2 separate regions of the Homo sapiens genome follow, and region 1 is linked to region 2. Evidence: fine-mapped expression QTL. A gene starts in region 2. The other region holds a variant in brackets. All regions are shown on one strand. Distances are from middle to middle.

Region 1 (8,319 bases), 32 kb before region 2:
CCAGCATTCAAGGCCTTGAACAGTTCGAATCTCCAGCCCCCGCAAGTCGCCACCATCCTTGCGCTGAGTCACTCCCCAGGGCCCGGGTCGGCGACCTGGAGCTCTGGGGCACGGGCTGGAGGCGGGATCGGGGCGGAAACCCCGGGGAGGGGGTGCGCACTCACCAGCCGAAGGTTCGGCACTCGCGGTGCCCCAGGCCTGGGCGCCGGGCGGCTGGGCACTCAGCGAGGCCGCGGCTCCGGGGGCGGGGAGGGGGCGGGACCGCAGGGACGGCCGGTCATTGGTCCGAACATATAGCCCCACCCCCTGGGGCGGAGCCCGAAGGACCCAGGCGTCCGGCCCAAACGGCTCGGAGAGGGCGGCGAGCTCAGACTTGGCGTCCTCCGCAGTCCCCCGACTCCCAAGCACCTGGAGCCGCCCCAGCCCGGCGTTCAAGGTCCTTGCCGCCGAGTTCCAACCTAACCTCGCGGCCCGTCTCCTGGGGCCGGCTTGGAGGTCTCCGCTGCGCCCAGTGCCTCTGCTCCGCCCGAAATAGGCCACGTGCGCTCCCGCCCCGGCCTGGGCCTCTCCCTGGCGCCCCGCCTGGAGGGCGGACCCTGTTGCCTCCTCACTTCTTCCATTCCCTCTTTATCTCCTCTGCCGTCTTTTCTCCATCTTTCTCGGCTTCGCCTATTCCGCTGGCCTCTGGGATATCCTTGAATACATCCTAACCAATTCAACATCCACCCAAGCTACCGCTGTCGCGTCATGCGTGGGGTGCTTACCATGCGCCAGCGCTGTTCAGCGTCTTACATACCTGGTCTCATTTGATCCGCATAACGATGGGTCCTGATCCATTTTACAGATGAGCTCACTGAAGTTCAGGGAGGTAAACTGATTTGCCTAAGTTACACGATAAGGATGTCATAGCATCCCTGACAATCAGTAGCCTAGGTGAACAACAGCCCAAAGCTAAATCCAGTCCACAGGGGTACCTTGTTTGGCCCTTAGGGTATTTTTACTTTTAAAAAATCTTTTCGGACGGGCACGGCGGCTCACGCCTGTAATCCCAGCACTTTAGGAGGCCGAGGCGGGCGGATCACGAGGTCAGGAGATAGAGACCATCCTGGCTAACACGGTGAAACCCCGACTCTACTAAACAAAATACAAAAAATTAGCTGGGCGTGGTGGCGGGCACCTGTAGTGCCAGCTACTCGGGAGGCTGAGACAGGAGAATGGCGTGAACCCGGGAGGCGAGCTTGCAGTTAGCCGAGATCGCGCCACTGCGCTCCAGCCTGGGCGACAGAGCGAGACTCCGTCTCAAAAAAAAAAAAAAAAAAAAAAAAAAAAAATCGTTTCAAAGCCGGGCGCGGTGGCTCATGCCTGTAATCCCAGCACTTTGGGAGGCGGAGGCCGGTGGATCACTTGAGGTCAGGATTTCGAGACCAGCCTAACCAACATGGTGAAACCCCGTCTCTACTAAAAATACAAAAATTAGCCAAGCTTGGTGGTGCATGCCTGTAATCCCAGCTACTCGAGAGGCTGAGGCACGAGAATTGCTTGAACTGGGGAGGCAGTGGTTGCAGTGAGCCGAGATCATGCCATTGGTCTCCAGCCTAGGCAACAAGAGCGAAACTCCGTCTCAAGAAAAAAAAAATTAAATTGGGATATTTCATATAAAAATAGATTTTTTTTTAGTGGAATAAACAAATGCCACTTCCTTTGAAAAACAGCCACTTCCCTTGAAAAAGCAGATATCTAATTTTCCCATTTTATGAATGGGGCAACTAAGATTCAGAAATCATGAAGGAAAACAGAAATAACATTCAGTAAGTGCTTACAAGTTCTATGTTGTCTCTTTACAACAGCCCTGTTGGGATCAATAATATCTCCATTGGACAAAAGAAGAAACGGAAGCTTAGACAAGTTAAGTAATTTGCTCAAAGTCACACAGCTGGCAAGCAGCAGATTCAAAGCTTGTGCTCTTCTATTGCACCAAATTACCTCTCAGGAATGAAGTTATAAAACTGGCTCTTTCCCAGAGCTGGGAGAAGGGGTCAAATGCCTGGATACTCACACACAGGATCCCCAAAAGCCACTTTGCATTCATTCTCTGAGTTTTTTTTTTTTTTTTTTTTTTTTTTTGAGATGGAGTCTTGCTCTGTCGCCCAGGTTGGAGTGCAATAGCACAGTCTAGGCTCACTGCAACCTCCGCTTCCCAGGTTCAAGTGATTCTCCTGCCTCAGCCTCCCAAGTAGCTAGGATTACAGGCACACACCACCACACCGGGCTATTTTTGTATTTTTTGTAGAGACGGGGTTTCACCATCTTGGCCAGGCTGGTCTCAAACCCCTGACCTCGTGATCCACCCACCTTGGCCTCCCAAAGTGCTGGAATTACAGGCTTGAGCCACCACGCCTGGCCTCTCTGGGTATTTATTGAGTCCTATATACCCGTCACCCTTCTAGGTATGGGGGATGTAGTAGTGAACAAAACAGATAAAAATAGTGGCTCTTGTGACACTACTAAGGGTGCAAACAAATGTACACATGTAAAGAGGAAGATAATATCAGATAATGATAGGTGCAACGGGGCAAATCTGACAAGATGATCCAACAGGGAGCAGCTATGGTAACAGGGGCTTCTTTAATGCAGGCAGGGAAGGTGTCTCAGGATACAATTTTTTTTTTTTTTTTGAGATGGAGTCTCATTCTATCACCCAGGCTGGAGTGCAGTGGCATGATCTCAGCTCACTGCAACCTCCACCTCCCGGGTTCAAGGGATTCTCCTGCCTCAGCCTCCCGAGTAGCTGAGATTACAGGTGCGCGCCATACACTCAGCTAATTTTTTTTTTTTTTTGAGGCGGAGTCTTGCTCCGTCTCCCAGGCTGGAGTGCAGTGGTGCGATCTCGGCTCACCGCAAGCTCTGCCTCCCAGGTTCACACCATTCTCCTGCCTCAGCCTCCCAAGTAGCTGGGACTATAGGCGCCCACCACCACGCCCAGCTAATTTTTTTTGTATTTTTAGTAGAGACAGGGTTTCACCGTGTTAGCCAGGCTGGTCTTGAACTCCTGACCTCAAGTGATCTGCCTGCCTTGGCCTCCCAAAGTGCTGGGATTACAGGAATGAGCCACCATGCCCAGCCTGGATACAATATTTTGTTTGTTTGTTTGAGACAGAGTCTCCAGCTGTCGCCCTGGCTGGTGGACAGTGGCGCAATCTTGGCTCACTGCAACCTCTGCCTCCCGGGTTCAATTCTCCTGCCTCAGCCTCCCGAGTAGCTATGATTACAGGTGCCTGCCACCATGCCTGGCTAATTTTTTGTATTTTCAGTAGAGAAGGGGGTTTCACTATGTGAGCCAGGCTGGTCTCGAACTCCTGACCTCAAGTGATCCACCTGCTTCGGCCTCCCAAACTGCTGAGATTATAGGCGTGAGCCACCGCGCCCGGCCTGGATACAATATTTGAGATGAACCTTGAATGATGAGAAAGGGTTAGCCATTTGAAAATCTGGAAGAAGAGTGTTTGAGACTGAACTGCAGAGGCCTTGAGGCAGAAGCTTGTGTGTTTGAGGAATAGGAAGAAGACTTGTGTTGCTGGATCTGAGCATCCAAGGGAGTGAACAAGGGGAAATGTAGCAAGGGAGATGGAGGAGAGGTAGGCAGAGGGTAAACTTGGCCAGAACCCAACCTCTAGCGAAAGCAAAGCATCTCGCTCTGATTAAGAGAGAATCAGTGAGGAGACTCAGCCAGGAGCCTGTCTCTGGCAGTGAAAGTCCCTACTGGAAGGAGCCTCCTGCTGTTTTAAATAGGAACTTGGAAAAAGAAGGTAAAGGGCTCCATCGATTTGCCCTGCAACCATGTACAGGTATCTACTTGCAATACGATCTAGTTCATGTTCTTGAGGATCTCATAGTCTAGTAAAGAAGTTTTTGGGCCATGCGCGGTGGTCACACCTATAATCGCAGCACTTTGGGAGGCTGAGGCAGGTGGATCACCTGAGGTCAGGAGTTCGAGACCAGCCTGGCCAACACCCCATCTCTACTAAAAATACAAAAATTAGCCTAGTGTGGTAGCGCATGTCTATAGTCCCAGCTACTTGGGAGGCTGAGGCAGGAGAATTGCTTAAACTCTGTCTCAAAAAAAAAAAAAAATAAGTTTTTGGGGCCAGGAGCAATGGCCCATACCTGTAATACCAACACTTTGGGAGTCCAAAGTGGGTAGTCGCTTGAGGTCAGGAGTTCAAGACCAGTCTGGCCAACATGGCGAAACCCTGTCTTTACTAAAAATACAAAAATTAGCTGGGCATGGTGGCACACGCCTGTAATCCCAGCTATTTGGGAGGCTAAAGCATGAGAATCGCTTGAACCCAGGAGGTGGAGGTTGCAGTAAGCTGAGATCGTGCCACTGCACTCCAGCCTGGGCAACAGAGCAAGACCCTGTCTTAAAAAAAAAAGAAGACGGAGAAGGAGGAAGAAGAAGAAGAAGAGGAATAGGAAGAGGAAGAAGAAGAAAAGGAGAAGAAGAAGAAGAAGAAGAAGAAGAAGAAGAAGAAGAAGAAGAAGAAGCAGCAGCAGCAGCAGCTTGTGGGCTGGGCGTGGTGGCTCTCACCTGTAATCCTAGCACCTTGGGAGGTTGAGGCAGGTGGATTGCTTGAGCTCAGGAGTTGGAGACAAGCCTGGGAAACGTGGTGAAACCCCGTCTGTACAAAAATCACCAAAAAAAAGAAAATTAGCTGAGCATAATAGTGCACGTGCCTGTAGTCCCAGATACTTGTGCGGCTGAGGCAGGAGGAGCACTTGAACCTGGGAGGTTGAGGCTGCAGTGAGCCGATATTGCATGCTGCACTCCAGCCTGGGTGACAAAGTGAGACTCTGTCTCAAAAAAAAAAAAAAAAGAAGCTTCTGATTTAAAATAGATCTCTAAATATACAGTATGAGTGATATAAGAAAAGGATAACAGGGTGTTCTAGCAGGAGAAGAGTGGGGTAAGTGAACCACTCTTTCGGGGGTATTAGGTATTTCGTGCTGGTCTCACTGAGAAGGTAACTGTGAAGGACCTTGAAAGATGAGTGGGTGTCAGGTGTGGTGACGCACACCTATGGTCCCAGCTACTTAGGAGGCTGAGGCAGGAGGACTGCTGGAGCCCAGGGGTTCAAGGCTATAGTGCACTATGTGCCTGTGAATAGCTACTGTATTCC[A/G]GCCTGGGCAATATAGTGAGAGCTCATCTGTAAAAAAAACAAGCAAACAAAAACTAAAGATGAGTGGGACTTTGCCAGATTGGCAAGGAGGCAGTAGTTTGTGGAAATATATATATATATTTTGAGACAGGGTCTCACTCCGTCCCCCAGGCTGGAGTGCAGTGTGCAGTCACAGCTCACCGCAACCTTGACTTCCCAGGCACAAGCGATCCTCCTGCCTCAAGCCTCCCGAGTAGCTGGGATTACAGTATTTTCTGGTGGTGGCGGGGGTCGTTTTTGTTTTTTGGAGACAAGATCTTGCTCTTTTGCCCAGGATGGAGTGCAGTGGCATGATCATGGCTCACTGCAGCCTCAACTTCCTGGGGCCAAGCGATCCTCCCACCTCAGCCTCCTGAGTTGCTGGGACTACAGGTGCATTCCACCTAATTTTTGTATTTTTTGTAGAGAGGTCTCACTATGTTGCCCAGGCTGGTCTCGAACTCCTGGCCTCCTGGCCTCCTGCCTCAACCTCTCAAAATGCTGGGATGACAGGCCTGAGCCACACCTGGCCTGGAAAGGCCTTTGGATCACAGAGGATTCTTTCCAGCTCATAGGTTTGCTGGACATTTCTCACCTCACTTGTAATTATTTGTTCAATGTCTATCTCCCGCATAAAAACAGGTCAGGGACTTTGTCTTGTTTATCTTTCTATCCCAGTATGCAGCACACAATAGGTGCAGCTGTTGAGTGAGTAACTATCCTCAAGAAGCTCTTCATGTGTTAGGTGCTCAGAGACGGGTTGCTCAGAGAAGGGGATTGTAACTAACCCAGACGAGGGTCAGAGTAGGCTTCTTGGAGGAAGTAGTGCTTGAGGTGTTTTGACAGAGGAGATTAACAAGGGGTGGGTAGTGGTGGAGGAGCATTCCAAGTAAAAGAAACGACATTTAAGGAGCCCAGGGCTGAAACTACACAAATGGAAGGGCTTGAGTGCCAATGAAAGTTAGGCTTTGGGGACAGCATGTGGAGATCCACTGGGGTTTCAATGGGGGAGTGACATGGCCAGATGTAATTTTAGAAAGCAGGCCAGGCACGGTGGCTCATGCCTATAAATCCTAGCACTTTGGGAGGCCGAGGCGGGCAGATCACCTAAGGTCAGGAGTTTGAGACCAGCCTGGCCAACATGGTGAAACCCCGTCTCTACTAAAAATAAAAAAATTAGCCAGGCGCGGTGGCGGACGCCTGTAATCCCAGCTACTAGGGAGGCTGAGGCAGGAGAATCGCTTGAACCCGAGCGGAGGCTGCAGTGAGCCGAAGATCCTGCCACTGCACTCCAGCCTGGGCGACAGAGTGAGTGAGACCCTGTCTTGAGAAAAAAAGAAAAAAGAAAAAGAAAGAAATCAAGAAAAGAAAGTGGCCAGGCGCGGTGGCTCACGCCTGTAATCCCAGCACTTTGGAAGGCTGAGGCGGGCGGATCACGAAGTCCGGAGTTCGAGACCAGCCTGACAAACATGGTGAAACTCCGTCTCTACTAAAAATACAAAAATTAGCCGGGCTTGGTAGCGCGCCTGTAATCCCAGCTACTCAGGAGGCTGAGGCAGGAGAATCGCTTGAACCCGGGAGGCGGAGGTTGCAGTGAGCCAAGATCGCGCCACTGCACTCCAGCCTGGGCGACAGAGCGAGACTCCGTCTCAAAAAAAAAGAAAAGAAAGTTCACTGCAGGTCGTCTTGGAGGGCACACTGGTAGGGAAGGGAGCTAGGAAAACCAGCAAGAAGGAACTTCCAGAAGCCCCAAAGGGCTCCGCTCAGGCCATCAAGAGCCCCAGCCCTGAACGCAGGGTTCTAGGGTTTTGAGAGCGCATCAATTTGGAAAGGGCGGGCGGAGCGGGAGGAGCCGCACTGCAGCCAGCCCTGGTCGGTTTCTAGGGAAGCCAGGCCAGTGCTTACGATCTCGCGAGAACCCGTCCAGGGATTCTTTCCGCACGGAGATCGGGGAGAGCCGGGGGCGGGAACTTGCGACCCTGTACTTCGTTGCCTTCATTGTTTAGCGGGGAGAACCGCCCTGGACTTCTTTTTTCTTTAATCCCTGGCCGATCAGGCCAGTGGTTGTGAAAACGCTAGGGATTGCAGACCTGCTTCCCAGGCCCCGCGGGGCGCCGGGAAATCCGGCGGGCTTTTCTGGGGGTGAAGGAGCACCGTTTGCCCTCCCTTTGGGCTGTGCAGCCGAATGACTCATTTCCCGACGCATAAAAAGGGTCTCGGGTGTCGGGTTTCCCAGGTCCCGGTGGGCGGCGCGCCGGCGTCCGGGCTTTCCACGCCGGTTCCAGACCTGTGGGCTGCCTCCCGCCGACAGCCGTCGCCATAGCAACAACGCCCCCCACACGCCCCCTCTTCCTCCTCCTTGCTGCCTTGTCTCTGCAGCGCCGCGCGGTTTTCCTTTTAAGGGTCGCGCTGGATGCTGTGGCGTAGGTGGTGCCTGCGGGCAGCCAGACCTCAGGCCTGGGGCATCGGCTGATGGAGCTGGCGGCCGTTTTTGAACCAGACGTCGGAGCTAGAAAGCCGCTGACTACGCCAAGACAACCTCTTTATTTAATGGGCTCAGAGAGCAAGGGAAGCACACAAAATTTACAGTCTGAGTTTTGCGCGCAGAGACCCCTCTCCACCTTTTTCATGCCTGTGTGTACACACACACTGTCCAAGCCTCAGAAGAGAAGCCGTTTATTGGTAAAAAGACACATGGAAATGTGGCTGCCAGGCCTCAGAGCATCCTGCCCTTTTCCCAAACAGCTGGCCTCTGCTATCCACCAGGACTTGGGCTTGGCATCCAGGCTGGATACCATGAGAGCACCTTCTGTCTCTGGTCTATTCTGCCAGTGTCTCCGTGTCAGGGTGGGTTGGCTCCCTCCAGGGCACAAAGGTCTGGGCTCTGTCCAAGAGTGCCCCTCCATAGGGGTGGGTACCACCATGCCACACAGCAGTATTTGCCCCATCCGGATGATCAAGATACCCCTGCCTCATCCTGTTACCTTAAATTCCAGAAGCCCCATCTCTGCAGCTCAGAAGGTAAACAAACCCTGGTTCAGGCATTGGTCTCCCAGAGCAAGGTTGGGAGGCATCAGTGGTGCAATCAGCTCACTGCAGCCTCAAACTTTTGGGCTCAAGTGAT
Region 2 (8,319 bases):
TTAAGAGTCAGAATTCTTCGAGTCCCTGTTCCTAAAGCAGCCCTTTGGCCTGAGTCTCCCCTTCCTTGGGACCTCTTTGCTGAGGGGGCTTGCTTTGATTGCATTCCCCAAATTCCCGTCTGTGGCTCCTGGGTCTCCAACTCTCCATCCCCCACAATGGGTGGAAGCTTCCTTATCTTCTCAGTGTCCTGAGCCTAGCTCCTCTGAGCCTCAGACTTGCTGTGTGACCCCAGCCACTCATTTGCCCTGTTTGAGCCTCTACTTTTCTTTTCTTTTTTTTTTTTTTTTTGAGACAGAGTCTTGCTCTGTCACCCAGGCTGGAGTGCGGTGCTGCGATCTCGGCTTACCGCAACCTCTGCCTCCCGGGTTCAAGCGATTCTTATGCCCCAGCCTCCGTAGTAGCTGGGATTACAGGCATGCACCACCACGCCCAGTTAATTTTTGTATTTTTAGTAGAGACGGGGTTTCGCCTGTTGGCCAGGCTGGTCTCGAACTCCTGGCTTCAAGTGATCCAACCACCTTGGCCTCCCAAAGTGCTGGGATTACAGGCGTGAACCACAGCACCTGGCCTGAGCCTCTACTTTCTCATTTGTAAAATGGGATGGGAGTTATTGCCTGGCTGGTGCCAGAGGGCCTTAGGAAGATGGAGTACAGGAATGAATGGATCAGGCTTTGAGAGGGACTGGGCCCCTGTGAGTTGAATGTCTGGGCGGATTATCATTGATTGGATCCTTTAGGCCATCACACAGTCTGTTTTCCATCAGTGATGCCGAGAAAGAGATGAGCATCCTTTTAACTTTTTGTTGGACTGGGAACCAGCTACTTTCTTTCAAAGGGTGAGGCTGCCCTGAGGTCTAAGGGATCTGGGCAGGGGTTGGAGGATTCTCACTCACCATGTCTTCAGTCTCCGGGGGGCAAGGCAGCGGCTCCGGCTGGAAAGAAGCAAGGAGTCAGCATGGGGCAGTCCCTCTGGGGTTATATAGTCCTGCCCCAGGGAGCCCTTAACATACCAAGGTAACCTTAGCCCTGCGGGTGCCCACCCCAGATACCAAAATAGCCCAACTCAGGGCCTCTCCTTTCTTGGAGGGCTGGCAGCAGCTGGAGCCCAGCGGGGAGGAAGGGGGGAGCATGTCTTGCGATGCATGTCTCACTAGGGCCTGGGCAAGAAGAGATGTTCTTTCTCCCAAAGAGGGGCTGGAATGTGCCAGAGTTTAGAGGGGACGCAACCCAAGGCATCATTCTGGGAGATAAATGAACCAGATCCTGTACCCCTGAGTGGGGTGGGCTCAGATTTAAACCCAGTAAACGTCTGGGTGCAGTGGTTCACACCTGTAATCCCAGCACTTTGGGAAGCTGAGGCAGGAGGATTGCTTGAGGCCAGGAGTTCAGGACCAGCCTGGGCAACATAGTGAGACCCCTGTCTCCCTTTTTTTTTTTTTTAGACAGTCTCGCTCTGTCTCCCAGGCTAGAGTGCCAGTAGTGTGATCTCGGTTCACTGCAACCTCCACCTCCCCTGTTCAAGTGATTCTCCTATCTTGGCCTCCCGAGTAGCTGGGATTATAGGTGTGCCACGAAGCCAGGCTAATTTTTTTTTTCTGTATTTTTAGTAGAGACAGGGTTTCACCGTGTCGGCCAGAGTGGTCTCAATCTTCTGACCTGGTGATCCATCCACCTAGGCCTCCCAAAGTGCTGGGATTACAGGTGTGAGCCACTGCGCCTGGCCCCCGTCTCTATTTTAAATTAATAAAATAAACCCAGTAAACATGTATTGAACACACACAGTGTGCCACGTGCTAGGCTGGGCTTTGTGGATGTACTTTGGCAGACACAATCCCTCCACCCCCACATGGTGGAGTTCATAGTCAAGTGTGTGTAAGTGTGAGGGTGGTGAGAAAGAGCCATCTGTGGAAGCTGAGGGATCAGGTGGGTCTCCTACCTCCCTTCAAGGAGAGGGGAATTTTTTTTTCTTTTCTTTCTTTTTTTTTTTTTTTGAGATGGAGTCTTGCTCTTGTCACCCAGGTGGGAGTGCAATGGTGCGATCTCGGCTTACTGCAACCTCCGCCTTCTGGGTTCAAGCGATACTTCTGCCTCAGCCTCCTGAGTAGCTGGGATTCCAGGCACCCGCCACCATGCCCAGCTACTTTTTTTTTTTTTTTTTGAGATGAAGTCTCGTTTTGTTATCCGGGCTGGAGTGCAGTGGCGTGATCTTGGCTCACTGTAACCTCCGCCTCCCGGGTTCAAGTGATTCTCCTGCTTCAGCCTCCCGAGTAGCTGGGACTACAGGCGCGTGTCACCACGCCCGCCTAATTTTTTTGTATTTTTAGTAGAGACGGGGTTTCCCCGCGTTAGCCAGGATGATCTCGATCTCCTGACCTTGTGATCTGCCTGCCTCGGCCTCCCAAAGTGCTGGGATTACAGGCGTGAGCCACCGTGCCCGGCATCTAATTTTTTGTATTTTTAGTAGAGATGGCGTTTCACCATGTTGGCCAGGCTGGTCTTGAATTCCGACTTCAGATGATCCACCCGTCTCGACCTCCCAAAGTGCTCAAAGTGCTGGGATTACAGGCATGAGCCACCGCGCCGAGCCAAGAGGGATTTTTTGAGGCAAGATGCTTTGTGGTCTCAGGTTTTGTGCTGGGCCTTGGTTTCCCCTCTGTAAAAGGGAGATGTAGTTCCCATCCCACAGAACTTGCCTTATAACTAATAGAGACAGGAATGAATGCAGAAACTGACATACCAGAGCTGGTCAGGAGCCCAGAAGTGGAGGGCGCAGCAGCCCTGTCTAGGAGTATGGGAGTGGCTTCACGAGGGCCAGGGAGTCAGGTGCAGGTGGAGGAGCAGATGTGCTGGGCGGAGGGCATGGCCTGAGCAAAGGCCTGGAGAGCGGAAGATCAGAAGTGTTCAGGTGGCCAGAATTGTGATGGGGCTGGTGACCAGCCCCTGAGGGGCCTTTGCCAGGCACAGGACGGAGACCCTGGGGAACCTTGGAAAGGTTTCATGCAGAAGAAGGATGTGATCTAGTATGAGTCTAGAATATTTTCTCTGGGTACTGGTGTGGAGGCTGGAACTCAAGAGGGGAGGAAAAGACCCTAAAAGGACAGCCAGCTGGTCACTTTCTGTGAGGTGCCTTGATAGCCAGTGGCAGCTCACTTTATTCTGGCCAAGAGCCAGCTTGGCTGATTGTGTGACTTTGATGTACCCTCTCTTCTCCCTCTGGGCCTCAGTGACCCAGTCCCCTCCATGCAGCAGAAGTCTGGAAAAATAGTGGCTGAGGAAGCCCCAAGTTGGCAAGGACAACCATCTCCTTCTCCTCCCGCTCCCTCTAGGACCCGATGTCCTGAGGAAGATGCCTCCCCCTGCCCTGTCCCCCCTCCTCCAGGCCCATGCCGATACCTCTAAGACATTTTCTTTTCTGGGCACTGAGGCCCCAGCCACCTGTTGTCTCTAAGAAGAGAGAAGGAGCCACCCTAAACTTAGCAGCTGCCCTTAGCCTCCCACACCAGCCCCTCCCTGCCTCAGACAGCAGCTGCCTCGCCTTATAGGGTTACCACGGGGGTCCAGGCCAGGGAGGAGCCCACTTATTACTGGGTTCTGGGAGAGGAGGAGGACTCCAAAAAGGGGAATGGGAGGAGAGCTCAGGAAGCTTGGGTCAAACGGGAGATGGGAAAGGTGAGGAGAAGGAGATCAGACACTGAGTGGGAATTGACAGGACATGGGGCTGAGTTGGGAGTGAGGGACCTTAGAGGACTCAGAAACCAAGGAGGAGCTGAGAAGTCGGGAGCTAGGTCTCACTGGAATTCCAGGATGGTGGATGCTATATGGAAATCAGAATATGGGGGTCAGAGAAAGAAGAGGGCGTTTAGAAGTTGGAAGGTTGGAGCTCATAACGTCAGGTCTTTATGCTTGTGATCTAAGGACAACCTGGAGCGCTCATGAGATTGAGGTCGGGATTCTCAGTGGAACATGAGGAGCACAGAGGGATGTGGCAGTGAGGGGAGAGGGGTTGACGGGACTGGGGCCTTGGATCCCCAAAAGAATAGTAACACACATATGGGGAGTTCATGGTATTAGGGATTCATGGATTTGGGGTTTGAGATCCCCACTAGAAGAAATGGAGGGGGTACTCAGAGGGATAAGGTCTGAGGAACTGGAGCCTGGGTTCTGGGGAGGAGCTCAGATAGATGGGAACTGAGGAGAGGGACTTGGAGGTTGGGATTCCCGCAGGAAATGGGTGAAGCAGAGATATGGGTTGCTTATAGGATCTGGGGGCTCTGGCTATTGCCACCTGGGCCTGGAGTGTTGGGGTTAGTTGGGGGCCGAGATCGGAGAATTATAGAGTAAAGGATGAGAGTACTGGGTCAGGGCACTGGATCTGTGGTGGGGCTCAGGGTCCCACAGACCACCAGAGTGTGGGGCTCAGGAGCTGAACGAAGAATAGGGGACCGGAAAGGACTCGAGAGGGGGCAGCGCGGCACTCATTGGTTGAGGGCTGCACTAATGCCCCCGCCCCTTCTCCGTGCTGTCCCCAGCTGTCACCCTCCCATAAGGCTTGTCTCCGGTTGTCACCGACTATCCCTGGGCTGGCACCGCCTGCTGGCAGCATCTTTGCCCTTTGGATGCTCCCATTGGCTGAGACAGCTATCTATTTTCCTGTCCTGTGGCCAAAGTGGGAGAACACGATCATTGGCTGACGGGGCGAATTAATCTCTAGCTTGCCCCGCCTCCTCCCAGCTGTCATTCCTTACTGACCATTTTGGGAGACCTAAAGAATTCTTCAGCTCTTCCTATTGACTGCGGATGCTGTCTGTCACCGCCTAAATAGACATCACTGCCTGTCAATTTGACCTCCACCTGCTCCCCTTTTCATTGGCTCCCTTTTTACCATTCCTATTGGTTAAGAAGCCTCCAGGCCCCACCTCTTACTCGCACAGCCCTGCCTCCTCCTCCGCCCTTCCGCGGTCATTCACCCTTCAGTCATATTCATTGGCCAGGAGGTTCAGACCCCTGCGTTTCTATTGGTTATTTCTTTCGTCCCATCGCCCCCTGCCTTTCCTCGTCCTCTGATTGGTCTTACAGCCCTAGCTTTCTCCGTTTCCTCTTTCCAGATGACCCACCCCTTTTTCGCCTCCAGCCCCGCCCACGATTCCAACGATTGGCAGAAGCCCAGTTCTCTCTCTCCCACTATTCGTCCAAATCCTCTGACTAGGCGGGAGAAAAAAGGAGCGCGATGAGCCAGTCCGCGCGCAGGCGTGGAACGCCGAGACGCTGGCGCGGAGCCGGCTCTGCGGCGTGTGCGCAGGCGCGAGGTCGGCGGCTCGCCCCCAAGCAGGAGGGAGGGGGCGGTGGCGAGAGCGCGCGAGGGGGTGAGAGGGCTCGAGAGAGACCCCGGCGCGCGGCGCCCCCCGACCCCTGCCCCGCCTCTGCGCGCCCAGCGGCCGCTCCGCCCCCGGCGCGCGCCGAGCCGCGCCCTTCGCCCTCTCCCCTTTCTCGGCTGGCCTCGCCGGGAGGCCCGAGGGGCGGCGCCTTCTGCGGCCTCCCCGGCGGGGGGATGTGAGGGGCGGCCCGCGGCCATGGAGACGGGCACGGCGCCCCTGGTGGCCCCGCCGCGCCGTCATGGCGCCCCCGCGGCCCCCTCGCCGCCGCCCCGGGGTTCCCGGGCCGGGCCCGTCGTGGTGGTGGCTCCGGGACCTCCAGTGACTACGGCCACTTCGGCCCCCGTCACCCTGGTGGCCCCCGGGGAGGCGCGGCCCGCCTGGGTCCCGGGGTCGGCCGAGACCTCTGCTCCGGCCCCGGCCCCAGCCCCGGCCCCAGCCCCGGCTGTCACGGGCAGCACGGTGGTGGTGCTGACCCTGGAGGCCTCGCCCGAAGCCCCAAAGCCGCAGCTCCCCTCCGGCCCGGAATCCCCAGAGCCCGCGGCAGTGGCTGGAGTTGAGACATCGAGGGCTCTGGCCGCAGGGGCAGACTCGCCGAAGACAGAGGAGGCTCGACCCTCACCCGCCCCAGGACCAGGGACCCCCACCGGGACCCCTACCAGGACCCCTTCCAGAACGGCTCCTGGTGCCCTGACCGCCAAACCCCCGCTTGCCCCCAAGCCGGGAACCACAGTGGCCTCAGGAGTGACTGCACGGAGTGCATCAGGACAAGTGACAGGTGGGCATGGAGCTGCCGCAGCAACATCAGCATCAGCAGGACAGGCTCCTGAGGACCCCTCAGGCCCTGGCACAGGCCCCTCTGGGACTTGTGAGGCTCCGGTAGCTGTCGTGACCGTGACCCCAGCTCCGGAGCCTGCTGAAAACTCTCAAGACCTGGGCTCCACGTCCAGCCTGGGACCTGGCATCTCTGGGCCTCGAGGGCAGGCCCCGGACACGCTGAGTTACTTGGACTCCGTGAGCCTCATGTCTGGGACCTTGGAGTCCTTGGCGGATGATGTGAGCTCCATGGGCTCAGATTCAGAGATAAACGGGCTGGCCCTGCGCAAGACGGACAAGTATGGCTTCCTTGGGGGCAGCCAGTACTCGGGCAGCCTGTGAGTACCAGTGGGCACCCAGCGGGACCGCCTCGGGGAAGCAAAGGTTGGGGGAGGGCGAAACGAAAACGATACACTTTGCCCAGACTCTGGCAGCCCAGCCTCCTCTGAGGATCCACGGGGTGATCAGCGCGAGCTGCCGTGTCTTGAGCATCCTGAGGTGCCTGTGACATTGGCATGTTAGTGGAGTTTCAGACCAGGGGTCAAGAGGTCTGGGTTTAAGCCTTGCCTTTGATGGGTTGTGTGCCCTTGAGCTAGTGGCTTCCCCATTTCCGTGCCTCAGTTTTTTCCTCTATAAAGTGGATTGAATGAGATGATACCTGAGGTCATCCCTGCTCTTTGATGGGGAACTCCAGCTACAGGCCGGATATTCTGGAGGGTTGGTTGGGCGAGGGTTCTGGTAGAGACCCTTGGTCCCTTAGGGTGGATAGCCTGGGAGGGGTGCAGGCATCTCCCTTCCCCCATAGCCCTAGGTCCCAGGGATGGAGTAGAGAGGTGGGGAAGTCTGGCTGATGGAAGGGAGACTGTGCAGTCAGGATCCCGCTGTGAAACAGGGCAGTCTTGTATCTGCACTGAAGTAAAGGGTGGGAGAGGCCTCTTCCCCATTTCCTCATCTCCCCAGCCGGGCTGACTCTTTCCTAGTTCTCTCCGGGGCCTGAGTCACTCCCGAGGTAGGGGGTGATTGCCTCTGACTTCTTCCTTCCCCCTCTCTGGATCCTGCCCGTTGTTCCTGTGCCCCTTTGACCTGCTGGGCCAGTCAGCCTACAGCATCTCCTGGGCCCCCAGGTGTCAGGCCCCAGGTGCTAAGGATAAAATAGTCCTTTCAAGGAGCCAATCATCTGGAGAGAAAGAAAAGTACTTAAACAGTTGGTTTCAATAGAAGACCTCGGGTTTAGCCTAGAGATCTCCAGAGGGTTTCCTGAGGCACCTAGAGCAGGGAGTCAGCTGAACCTGCTCTGAATCGTGGAGAGTAAGTAGGATTGATTTAGTCTTGGCTATGTGTGCAGGGATCGGGGGAAGCCCTGTGGGAGAGTTTTCCAGGCAGGGTTCATGAGCCAACCAAAATCAGAAAGCCTTTGATTGGGTACCAACATTCAGGGTCTTACATGGGAAAGCAACTGAGGTTTGACCCTGGTGCTTTCTAGGCACAAGGACTCGGTTTATAGATGAAGAAACAATTAGTGCAGTTGAGTGAATTGTCCCCCTCAAATAATCTGGATCTGTGTGACCAGTGGCTCTCTCCTCAATAGCAGGCTGTCCTGAGGAACTCGGGCTGAACTTAGTTTGGGGGAGTCCCTCTTGTGTGCCAGGCACTATGCCGGGTGCTGTTTCTTTGCTTTGTAGCTTTGTCCCTGTAAGATCAGCTTCAATGCCAGAGAACTCTACCTCTTGGGCAAGACTGACTGTAATCCATGTTACTTTCGCAGCGTTCAGTGGCTCGCTGCTGTCCACAGGATGAAGTTCAGGCTCTTTGGCCTGCGCATAGCCTCTCTGGTCACCTTTGCCACCATTCCTCACCGGGTGCTTTGCGCTGTGGTCCTGCTGAACTAGTTGTAGTCCTTTCCCCTTCATATTCAGGCTGTGCACCTGCCAAGGGTGCTCTTCTCCCCTTTCTTTGCCTGCTAAGTTCTACTCATTTCTTCATGGCTTACCTCAGATGTCCCCTCCTCCAGGAAGCTTCCCTGATACCCACTGCCCCCACTCCAATTAGATGTGTCTTTGGTGCATCTTTGTCATTGCATTTCCCATGCTGTATTACAGTTATCGCTCCTCTTAGGCTGTAACCTTCTTGA

The links. PIP is the estimated chance that this variant, and not a neighbour inherited with it, causes the effect.
Region 1: its variant is fine-mapped to the expression of TBC1D10B in whole blood (TOPMed, PIP above 0.99).

What each region holds. Positions count from the first base shown.
Region 1 is chr16:30,399,510-30,407,828 of GRCh38, reverse strand. It overlaps ZNF48 (zinc finger protein 48), which reads right to left. Exons shown (of 3, transcript NM_001214909.2): 3 at 7,721-8,319. It overlaps ZNF771 (zinc finger protein 771), which reads right to left and starts at 223. Exons shown (of 3, transcript NM_001142305.2): 1 at 165-223. RefSeq lists silencers at 88-297, 320-499. The variant A/G (reference allele first, on the strand shown) is at 5,178.
Region 2 is chr16:30,367,435-30,375,753 of GRCh38, reverse strand. It overlaps TBC1D10B (TBC1 domain family member 10B), which reads left to right and starts at 5,260. Exons shown (of 9, transcript NM_015527.4): 1 at 5,260-6,526. The coding sequence starts at 5,571. It overlaps MYL11 (myosin light chain 11), which reads right to left and starts at 952. Exons shown (of 7, transcript NM_013292.5): 1 at 894-952. The coding sequence starts at 896. RefSeq lists silencers at 5,375-5,664, 5,755-5,834.